2 separate regions of the Homo sapiens genome follow, and region 1 is linked to region 2. Evidence: fine-mapped expression QTL. A gene starts in region 2. The other region holds a variant in brackets. All regions are shown on one strand. Distances are between the middles of the regions.

The links.
Region 1: its variant is fine-mapped to the expression of LINC02052 in testis (GTEx, PIP above 0.99).

Annotation. Positions count from the first base shown.
Region 1 is chr3:186,452,717-186,458,093 of GRCh38, reverse strand. LINC02052 (long intergenic non-protein coding RNA 2052) reads left to right here. Exons shown (of 8, transcript NR_033844.1): 4 at 464-753; 5 at 1,490-1,930; 6 at 2,049-2,106; 7 at 2,321-2,658; 8 at 2,920-3,113. Among named protein-coding and RNA genes, the nearest start is that of LINC02020, 15 kb to the right of the region's middle. The variant G/A (reference allele first, on the strand shown) is at 2,924.
Region 2 is chr3:186,490,861-186,496,237 of GRCh38, reverse strand. LINC02052 (long intergenic non-protein coding RNA 2052) reads left to right here and starts at 2,577. Exons shown (of 8, transcript NR_033844.1): 1 at 2,577-3,132; 2 at 3,948-4,126. RefSeq lists an enhancer at 604-898.

The sequences.
Region 1 (5,377 bases), 38 kb after region 2:
TCCAAACATGTAAGTAGAGTGTTTCCCTGAGTTCTGTGAGCCATTCTAGCAAACGATTAAACCCAATGAGGCAGCTGCGAGAACCTTCCGTGTAGCCAGGTCAGAGAGAAGTTGCGGGTAACCTGGGGACCTACTACTCGCGATTGATGTCTGAAGTGAGAATTGGTCTTGTGGGACTGGGATCTTAACCTGTGGGGTCTGCACTAACTCTAGCTACTGTCAGAATTGAATTAAATTGTAATTCAATTACAATTAAATCTACAGAGAATTAGAGAATTGCTTGATGTGGGGGAAAACCCCACACATTTTGGTGACCAAAAATGTTGTGAGAGTACAAAAGAGAGCATAAAGCAGTTTTTTGTTTTGTTGTTTTGTTTTGTTTTGTTTTGTTTTCCTATAGACAGACTATGTCTCTTCTCCCGGGCCCCTCAAAAGGTGCTGCCTCCCCTTCTTCTCTCTTTAGCCAGCACAAGAGCACACAGGAGGCCGGCATAATCACGAATTGCAGCTGTCTGAAGGGCAGTCACATAAAAGAGGAGAAGCTTCACCTTTGCTTCACAAGGCACATCTTGAACCAGGGATGGAAATTACAGAGAGGCCAAAACCAGCTCGGTGTGAGCAGGACTGGTAACAGACTGGCCAAGCAACAGAAGGGGCTGCCCTGTGAAGAAGCAAGCTCTCTGTCAATGGGAGGTGCAAGCTGAGCCTGCACTACCTTTTGTCACGGTTGCTATGGAAAAGATTAAGAGCCCGGTATTAACTATCTATTGCTACATAACAGAATACCACACAACTTAAAAGCTTAAACAACACATTTTTATCATGTCACAATGTTTGGGGTCAGGGATTCTGGAGTGGCTTAGCTGGGTGGGGTCTCCGGGTTGGTCTCTCGTGAGGCTCCAGTCTAGATGTTGGCTGGGGATGCAGTCGTCTGTCAGCTTGGCGAGGGCTGGATGATCTGCTTCCGGAATGGCCCACTCACATGGCTGTGGGAAACAGGCCTCAGCCCCTCTCCATGTGGCTTCTCCATAGGGCTGCTTGAGTGTCTGCATGACATGGCAGCTGGCTCCCTGAAGAGCACGTGATCCGAAAGAGAGAGCAAGACAGAAGCGCAGTGTCTTCAACAGCATATCTTTGAAAGTCATATTCCACCGTTTTCACTACATTCTATTGATAAGTGAGTCACTCAGAATAGCCTACATTCAAGAGGAGAGGAATGAGGCTGCATTGAAGGGAGCACACTGCAAAGAATGTGTGGATTTATTTTAAAACCACTATAAGCCCCTTCAGTGCTGAGTTATTGTGATGCCTTATGCATTCCGAAGCCAAACGTGGATGTGATTTTAATTAGCAGCGATGCTAAGCTCTTTTGCTAATGCTACTAAAAAACACAGGAGTCTCTGCATTGTTCCATCCCCAGTAGGTAGCTTAAGATGCTCTATTTAATTCAGTACAATACAGATTTATTAACCACTCTCTCTGTCTGTAGGGCCTGGCTGTTCCCACCTCAAACCACTTCTTAGCTTCATTTGTTCTCATAACAACAGGATAGCCCTTCCTCCTCTGGGGGCCTGGGCATCAGCAAGTCGGATGGCAGTGGAAGGTGGAGAAATGGAATCCTGCTGGGGGCTCAGGAGGCCTGCCCCCTGATGCTGCCGTGCACTGCAGATGTCCTTGATGAAGAGAATGAATGGAAGGTATTGGAAGGGAGCTGAAGTTCAACAAATGACCACCTAATGAAAAAGTCAGCAGTGGATTGCTTGAGATCTTGAGCACCCTGTACTGTTATTAGTATTTATAAACATGTTTGAAAGATGTTCCCTTCCTTCACTGTAGTGCCAGAAAGCCTTTAACATATTGGGTCCGGTCTAGATTTGTAAGGAAGTATGGCTGAATTGTTATCGGGTGGATACAGTTTACATGTTTAAAGGTTAGTTTTGTTTAATAGTCAGATTTCTATAGCCCAGGGGACGAGGTGGTGGCTACAGTGCAGAATGGTCTCAGGGGGACATGTATGTATAATGCAATGGCATCTGTTTATCTTACAGCTGTCTTTCTCAATGGCAAAAGGGCATACTGCTGTTATTGTCAGTGAGGGGTCAGTAGGTAAGAGAGAGAGAAATGGTAACAGAAAGTGCTTCCTTAAGTGAAATTAGGGGAGTGTGTATGTGTGTGTGTGTGTGTGTGTGTGTGTGTGTGTGTGTCTTTGGGGTGGGGGAGTGGTAAATGCATATTTAGTTAGCGAAAGTGCCAGGCTTACAGTATCTCTAAAATTAATGCTCATAGCGGCCATATAAATAAGTATTATTATTCTTTTCAGTTTAAATGATGAAACTCTGGGGATCAGCGTAAAGTAAACCAACATACTGCATGTAAGTATCAAGTAAATGAGCAGAGACAGCCCCTGGTTTACAAACACCTGACTTAAGCATCGTCCATCCTACAGGTAAATTCCTCATTCTTACTGCTGTGAGAACAATTGTTAGGAGCCAAAAACTTCAGAGCTTTCAAAGAACTGTAATGAGATAGCACAATGCAGGCAAAAAGCCAGTGTTAACGGAGCAAGAAACTTCCCAGTTCTGACATTCACAGCATGACCTAGAGCATGCGGATTCCCCTCTCTGAGTCACTGGTTTCTCACCTGCAAAAGAAAGCGGGGTGCGTGTATTTATGGGAGTAGGGTGGGTTTTGGCTAAGCACAGGAGTCATCTGGGTGGCTTCATACACAGATAAAGGGCTCATCCCACCAGGTCGGGCTTTTGAACCCGAAATGTTTGGCGTGACGGTGGGGGCACCTATTCTGAGAAACTACCTCTCCAGGGGTTGCAGTCACACAGCCCTTGCCAATCAGTGTCTGGGAACCAGGGACCTGATCATCTCTAAGGTGCCTCCAAGATCCAGCACTTAATTCCATTTTAGGACA[G/A]GGAAGGAGGAAGAAGCTTCGAGAGGCTGGAACAGTTGAGGGAGCGCTGACACGGTAAAGGCCACTTTGCTCATCATCACCAGGCGTGCTGCCGAAAATTTCCACTCTGTTTACTCCCAAGACCTTACTCCTACTATGTGGAGACACATTTGAATAAAAAATTGGCCTCTTTTCAAAGTCAAAATTCTGAGCCAGCTTGAAGGGATTGTTTTTGGTCAAACCTGCATCAATTTGGGCATCAAAATAAATAATGCTACCAATTTATTGCACCCTATTGAATAGAATAGCAAGTCATGAGTCTATGTTCATATAAATAAGTAAAACTGAGGAGAAGGGAAAGCTCTCTTTTATAGTAGAAATCCATCTAATAGGTGTAGAAGAAAATGATAAAGTTAGAAAATCACCATTTGGCCACCATTGTAGTAATCATGGATTCAGCTAAAAATCATCAATGGATGCTGGAACAAATGAGTGAAAGTTTAATGAGGGTCAGAATATTTATATGGCCTCACAGTGTATCCTTATACAATTCTTAATAATTACTGACAAAATTCTTACTAACTTTATGAGAAACCTGGCAGAAACCATCTTCACCTGGTAACAGAAGCTAACAGCACTGCTTGGGTCAAGTGGGCACTGTGTGCCACCTGATAGGATGGACCGAGGACACGGCACTGCTTCCGTGGCATTCCTGCCAAACACATGTGAAGTGCCCAGTCTCAGGACCAAGACAGGAGACGTAACAAATGAATGCAGTGTGTGGTTGTGTATTGCATCCCAAACCAGAAAGGAAAGGGGGTAAAGGAAAGATGGCATTGTTGTTGTTATTTCTTTCTTTCTTTATTTTCTTTTGAGAGAGACGGAGTCTTGCTCTGTCACCCAGGCTGGAGTGCAGTGGTGCGAACTTGGCTCACTGCCACCTCCACCTCCCAGGTTCAAGTGATTCTCCTGCCTCAGCTTCCCAAGTAGCTGGGACTACAGGCATGCACCACCACGCCCGGCTAATTTTTGTATTTCTAGTAGAGACAGGGGTTTTACCATGTTGGCTAGGCTGGTCTCAAACTCCTGACCTCAGGTGATCCACCTGCCTCGGCCTCCCAAAGTGCTGGGATTACAGGTGTGAACCACCGAGCCCAGTCTTCTTGTTGTTGTATTTCTATAAAAAATATTGGGATAATCAGCAAAAGTTGAGTGGAGGCTGTAGATTAGAGAAGTGTGTTGTGTAAACATTAAGGTACTGATTTTGGCCAAGCGTATTGAGGCTATGCAAGAGAGTGCTCTTGTTCTTAGTAGCTTGTCTCAGTCCATTTTCAGTTGCTATCACTGAATGCCAGAGACTGGGTAATTCACAAAGAAAAGAAATGTATTTCTCATAGTCCTGGAGGTTGGGAATTCCAAGGTGTAGGGGCCACATGTGGTGAGGGCCTTCTTGCTGGTGGTGACTGTCTGCAGAGTCCGGAAGTGTGCAGGGCATCACATGGCATGGAGGCAAGTGCATGCAAGTGTCAGCACAAGTGTGTCTTCCTCTCTTTATAAAGCTACCAGTCCCATCACGGGGGCCCTGCCCTGATGACTTTATCTAATCCTAATTACCTAGACTCCACGTCCAATCAACATAGGAATTTTAATTGGATTTCCTAACCTCTTAATACCATCACAATGACAACTAAATTTCAACACATGAATTGGGGGGCGGGAGGCACATTCAAACCATAGCAGAGATGCACACAGAAGTATTTGGGGATATGCTTGCAACTTAGTTCTGAGTGGTTCCGAAAAATAAATATGCGTGTATACATATGAGTGTGTATGTGTGAAGAGACAGAATAACACTGATATGTTTTAAAACAGAGTATCTAGAAAATCTCTTTTGTAACTTTTCCATAAGTGTGAAATTATTCTTTTTTTAAGGTTAGAAAAAAAATTTAAAATCAAATACCCTTAGGTGGGGTTTTGGGTCATCGATCATTTATATCTTACTGCGAATTAGTCTGATCAGATTCCTTCCATTTTAATGAGATCTTGAAACACTTTCGGGGTTAGAATAGTCAGGCAAAATAGCGGTGCTACCATGGAAAACCTAAAAATCATAAAAATACCCAGAAGTGAAGGACAAGGACCCAAGGAAGAAGGTAGAAGAGAAATTCAGAAAATGAGGCAAGAGTGAGTGAGTAGTAGTCCTCAAATTTGCCTGGAGCTGAGAAGACATCAGCCTGACTTCCCTTTCTCGGTCATGCTCTTTTCAAACTGGGCTGCAAATGAGAATCAGCCGGGGTGCCTAAACCCACCCTGCACGGTGAAATCAGAAACCTGGTGGGGAGACTGAGTGTCGGTGTGTTTTGGAAACACCCAGGTGACTCCAACGTGCAGCCACAATGGCGCGCCTCTGAGCTGTCCCATGGAGTCAAAGGGCACTTGCTGAACCAACTAGGACGGCTTCCCACTGGGCCTCGC
Region 2 (5,377 bases):
GTGGATGGGAGAACATATGGCCCAGGAAAAGCGGGCAGCTGCAGGCCCTAGCTCCAGCTGATTGCAGCCAGGACATGCTGACTCTGTGTTACAGAGCTTCTGGCTTTTTAAGAGAAGCCAAAGAGCTGGGTTTTTATGCAAAATATCCCAAAGTTTAAAGATTGGTAACAGATTCACAAAAATGCAGAACACGATATGGTCTGGATGAGATGAATCTTATTCCATGACTACCAGTGTTGTGCTTTTTCAGTTCTTTCACTATTGACCTGACCTGTCCTCCAATGACTGGGGAATTCCTTTGCTTTATTTTCGTTTTGTTTTGTTTAGACAGGGTCTCACATTGTCACCCAGGCTGGAGTGCAGTGGCACGTTCTTGGCTCACTGCAGCTTCGACCTCACAGGCTCAAGGAATACTCCCACCTCAGCCTCCCAAGTAGCTGGGACTACAGGCACACACCACCATGCTCACCTAATTTTTTGTATTTTTTGTAGAGACAGGGTTTCACCATGTTGCCCAGGCTGGTCTTGAACCTCTGAGCTCAAGTGATCCACCCAACTCAGCCTCCCAAAGTGCTGGGATTACAGGCATGAGCCACCGCGCCAGGCTGAATTCTTTCTTTACTTCCTATTCAGGCTCCTAAGGAAAGAAAACCAGCTGACCCAGCCAATCCTTTTGGGTCAGATCAGGTCAGGCCGTGTTTAGTTTGTCTTAAGGTCAGGGATCTACTCCTGCCTACTCTAATCAGCTGTGGCCAGCAGGCAAGACGGGATGTGGGAGCAAAGTGCATTCCCACTTTCGTATGACTCCAAAGCCCACTCTAAACTCCTGCACTCCATCCTGCCTCTCAGTTAGGTCAGAAGTCTGAAAAGGTCTGAAGTGACTTTTGTAGATATTACACTTTCCAAGAAGGGCTTTGGTGAAGAGGTATTTCAGCTTCCTCCTAAAGTGGCACCAGCTTCTTCTTTTTCTTTTCTCCCCGGCCCTCCACCCATGTTTTGTTCCATTTCTCCTAGTCTCCATACAAATCCAGCAAAGTGATTTTCTTGCCGGCTAGTAAAATTATAAAAACGATTTAAACTGCTCTTTTTCTCTCTTAAAACAGCTTTCTCCCTGTCAGTAAGAAGCAGGAAGATGAATGAAAGAAAACAGGTCAGCATTTCTAGCTTTTCAAGCTGTTTTTCAATAAGGAAAGAGGCAAAGAAAACTCCAGAGATGGATATGAATTGCATTGAAAACATTTCCTCCAGGAGAAAAGTCGCTGCTTCCCTGAGAGGGCTCATTTATTGATTTAATCAGCCTGCAGGAGCACCTTCTCCAGTAAAAGATGTTGAGTTGGAGTGGCCTGGTCTGCAGTGTGTGCTTACGGTGCTGATAGCACCACTGCCGCTGATGCCGACGGTGCTTTTCACCTGTGCCCACACGTGTGATGGGGGAAGATGCACCTCCCTGTGAATGCTGGCGTGCTCCATGTCACTCCAGGATGTCACTTGTCCTGATGTCCTATCTGAGTTCTCTGTAGGCATGCTACAAGAAATCTGATGACTTTGGGAGAAAGAAGATGATACATTCTTTTTTTTTTTTTTTTTTGAGACAGAATCTTGCTTTGTTGCCCAGGCTGGAGTGCAGTGGCTCAATCTCAGCTCACTGCAACCTCTCAACTTCTGCCTCCCGGGTTCAAGCGATCCTCCTGCCTCAGCTGCCCACATAGCTGGGATTACAGGCATCCACCACCATGCCTTGCTAATTTTTGTATTTTTAGTAGAGTCGGGGTTTCACCATGTTGGCCAGGCTAGTCTGGAATTCCTGATCTCAAGTGATCCATCCACCTCGGCCTCCCAAAGGGCTGGAATTACAGGCGTGAGCCACCGCGCCCGGCCAGATGATACATTCTTGATTCCCCCAAATTCCTAGAGTGTAAGAGCCAGAAGGACCCTCCACTCAACCCCTTTATCGTACAGATGAGGAAACTGAGGCCCGAGAGGCAACCTGCCCACTTGTTGTGACTGAGAGCTGAACCTCAAGGAGGACTGGTCTTTCCTATAAAACTCTCCCCTCAGAGTTGCTCTGGACTGATAGAGAAAAACGTGCACCCAGTCTCCAGGGGCAAGAGCAAGGCCCTATAAAAAGGATGATCTGTGTATTTATTCTGTCTCTTGTTGTCTTTGGCACGGCTCTGCCTGCCAGTCCTTAACCCTTTGCAGAGCTCTGGGCAGCGTCTCCATGGTGGATTAGGGTCTAATCACTAGGAGAAGGGCGAGGGCAAGCTCTTGAAAGAGTAGCAAATATGGAAAGTTCCCGAGTGAGCGTTAGGGGAGATGTACTGGGGGACCGGGGGGACGGACCTGGAGGGAGAACGAGGGCGCGAGAAAACCGTCTTCCAGGACTTCCCACCAGCGGAATGGCACTTTTGACAGATTTTCCTTATTTGTCTGTGAAGGGGATTCAGATCATTCAAGATGGACTCAAGTGGTTGCTAAGGCAACAGTGTTACAGTCGTCACTGTCATGGAAACCCGTTCTGTGGCGTAATATAAATATTTTCCTTTAGGAATGAGAAAGAGAGTTGAGTGGGCGACAAGTTGTTTTCTAATGCTCACGCGCTATGGCCGAAGTCTGCAATGGATGGGAGAAAGGGGAGGACCAAATTAGCTCAGATTCTTTACAGTTCACAGCATCAGCTGTTTTATTTATTTGTTTTAGATAGCGAAGCCAAAAAAAGTTGGATGGGGGCAAAAATGCCAACTAAAATAGCTCATAGTTCTGAAGTAGAGAGAAGTCAGAATTTCCCGTTTTCTCTTGTTTCTCTCAGGGATGGTCTATATGACTGGCGCTCCTTGGAAGCAGTGCTGAGGGCATTATCAAGAGTTTCCAGGGCCTCCTCTTTCTCCTGAAACCTTCTTCAAGGAGGGTAAAGTTTTAAGAGAGTTCAAAAGTACCACAGACTTCCAGGGAATAGTAGTTTTTGTCGTGACAAGCATGGACATTTTCTTGCGTCATGTACTATTTCAGAAGGTAGAGACCACAAAAAGGCTTCTTACTGTGGCCACCGTGGACATCTTCCCACATCTACAAGGTGTTGTGGCCACATCATTGCTGCACCCAGTTTCCTCAGAAGAAATACCTGTTGCTTAGGTGGGGAGACAGAACCCATTTACCTGGGAGGTAACTTCCAACGCCAAGATTCTAGAATTTCATGGTTCTTCTCTCAATAGTTTATGATTCTAACAGTCAATGGTTCTGTATTCAAAGATTCTCTGGTTTTATTATTCTAAGAGCCTGCTTTTAAAAATTGGGTGTCAGAGCAAGCCCCGAGGGCAGCAGCTGTGGGCAGGCTGGAGGAAATGGTCCCTGTTTAGGTGCTGCACTGGTCTCTGCATGATCAATCCCAGCGCCCAGAACACCGATATCAAGGCCTTTGCCTGGCTCTTCTCCAGATGGTTTTCTATTGCAGGAGTTTTGCTGGCAGAGAGCTTATGAAGAAACAGGCTTACAGAAGGCACGGCCAGGCTGCAGGGATGACTGGGACCTGAAAACAGCCAGCATCATCATTCTTGAAAGTTTGCTGACTTTCCTGTATTTATTTTCCATGGACTATGAGGAGGAGAATAATAGTGGTTCTCTAATCAAGGGGCATTCACAGAGGGGCCTAGCCAGGCAGCCTGACCCTGTAGACCTGCTCTGCTCCAGAGAACAGTGGAGGGGAGGGTGGCTTTGCATGGAAGCTTACACTATAGTAGGATGAAAAGATTGGCTTGGGAGACTGTGAAGGCTCAAAATTTTTATTCCAGTCTATCTACTAGCTCCCAGGGGATGTGTCTGGGAGAGCTCTCAGTTGTGTGATGCTGGGAGGAGCTTTAGATCCCCTCAGCCCTGGCTTACTGGTCTGCAATGGGAGAATAGCACAATTAATGGAGCAGACAATAACCAAATCTGTTAAATGATTTCAGGTTTAGAAACGAGGCATGTATACGTATTTAACAGTTCTCAGAATGTCAAGGATCCCTCCTCAGAGCAAGAGCTCGAATTTACAAAAGAAGCACTACCTCCTTTATCACATAGTAAAATAAAGGACCGTGTCTGCTCCAGGACATGGCTGGTTACAATTTTGTTTTAAAGAAATCACCAGGTGGGTGCATGGATAAGGGATCCTTGATAAGTTGTTTTTTTTTTTCCTCCTCACTGTGTAAACAGCTTTATTGCTGTTTCAGTTTATATAATTAACACTTGCTCTTTGGAACAATTTGAACAGTGTATAAAAGTGTAGGAAATAACTTAAAAGTTCATCTTCCCACAGGAGCTGAATTTTATGAAATAATTAATTAATTAAAATAAAAAACCATTTAAAATCCCACCACCCTGAGATGATCCCATCAGCCACTTGTTGACAATATTTTGCATATACATAAGTTTTAGACATACACATATTTAACATAAATGAGATATTTTTATTTTGGGAGATATTTTTATATCTCCCAAATCAGTCTTTTGCTGTCTTACCTTCCTGCTTCCCTTCTGCATGTCTCTTTATCTGCACCAACTCTCCTTCCCATTCCAGGTAACCCCTGAAAACCACCTGGTGTAAGCCACCTTGTCTAGAAACCAGGGAGGCAGGGAAGAAATAAGAAGCATATTCTAGAAATCTCTTCAAGTCTTCTGAAACAGATCTAACCCTTTTATTAGCTTAGTTCCCGGTCGTTTTCTGGTTTTTGTTTGTGTACTTGTTTTCCTTTTGTTTGGATTTTAGTTGGGGGTTTGGGTGGCTACTTGGAACACGGGTGCCATGAATAATATTGAATCTATGGTCATTAAACGCCCATGGACTCTTGCTTCTATCAGATAGATTCCAAGGAGAGGGACTCATGAAGGGAAGAGTACGTAGATTTTTTCATTTTAAAAGGTAGAGCAAAGTTGATCTCCAAAAGAGGCACTATCACATTTCTACTTATGAAGAAAGACAGTATCTGGGGGGAAACTTCACCCCAATATTCCCATTAACTAGTAGCTGTTTTCATTCTCTTCAACTTTTTGCTATTCAGGTGGGGCTAAAGTGATACCTCATAATTTTTTTCTTTTTCTTTTTCTTTTTTTAAGATGGAGTTTCACTCTTGTTGCCCAGGCTGGAGTGCAATGGCGTGATCTCGGCTCACTGCAACCTCCGCCTCCCGGGTTCAAGCAATTCTCCTGCCTCAGCCTCCCAAGTAGCTGGGATTACAGGCAGGTGCCACCATGCCCAGCTAATTTTTGTATTTTTAGTAGAGACAGGGCTTCACTCTGTTGGTCAGGCTGGTCTTGAACTCCTGACCTCAGGTGATCCGCCTGCCTTGGCCTCCCAAAGTGCTGGGATTACAGGCATGAGCCACCGCACCTGGCCAATACT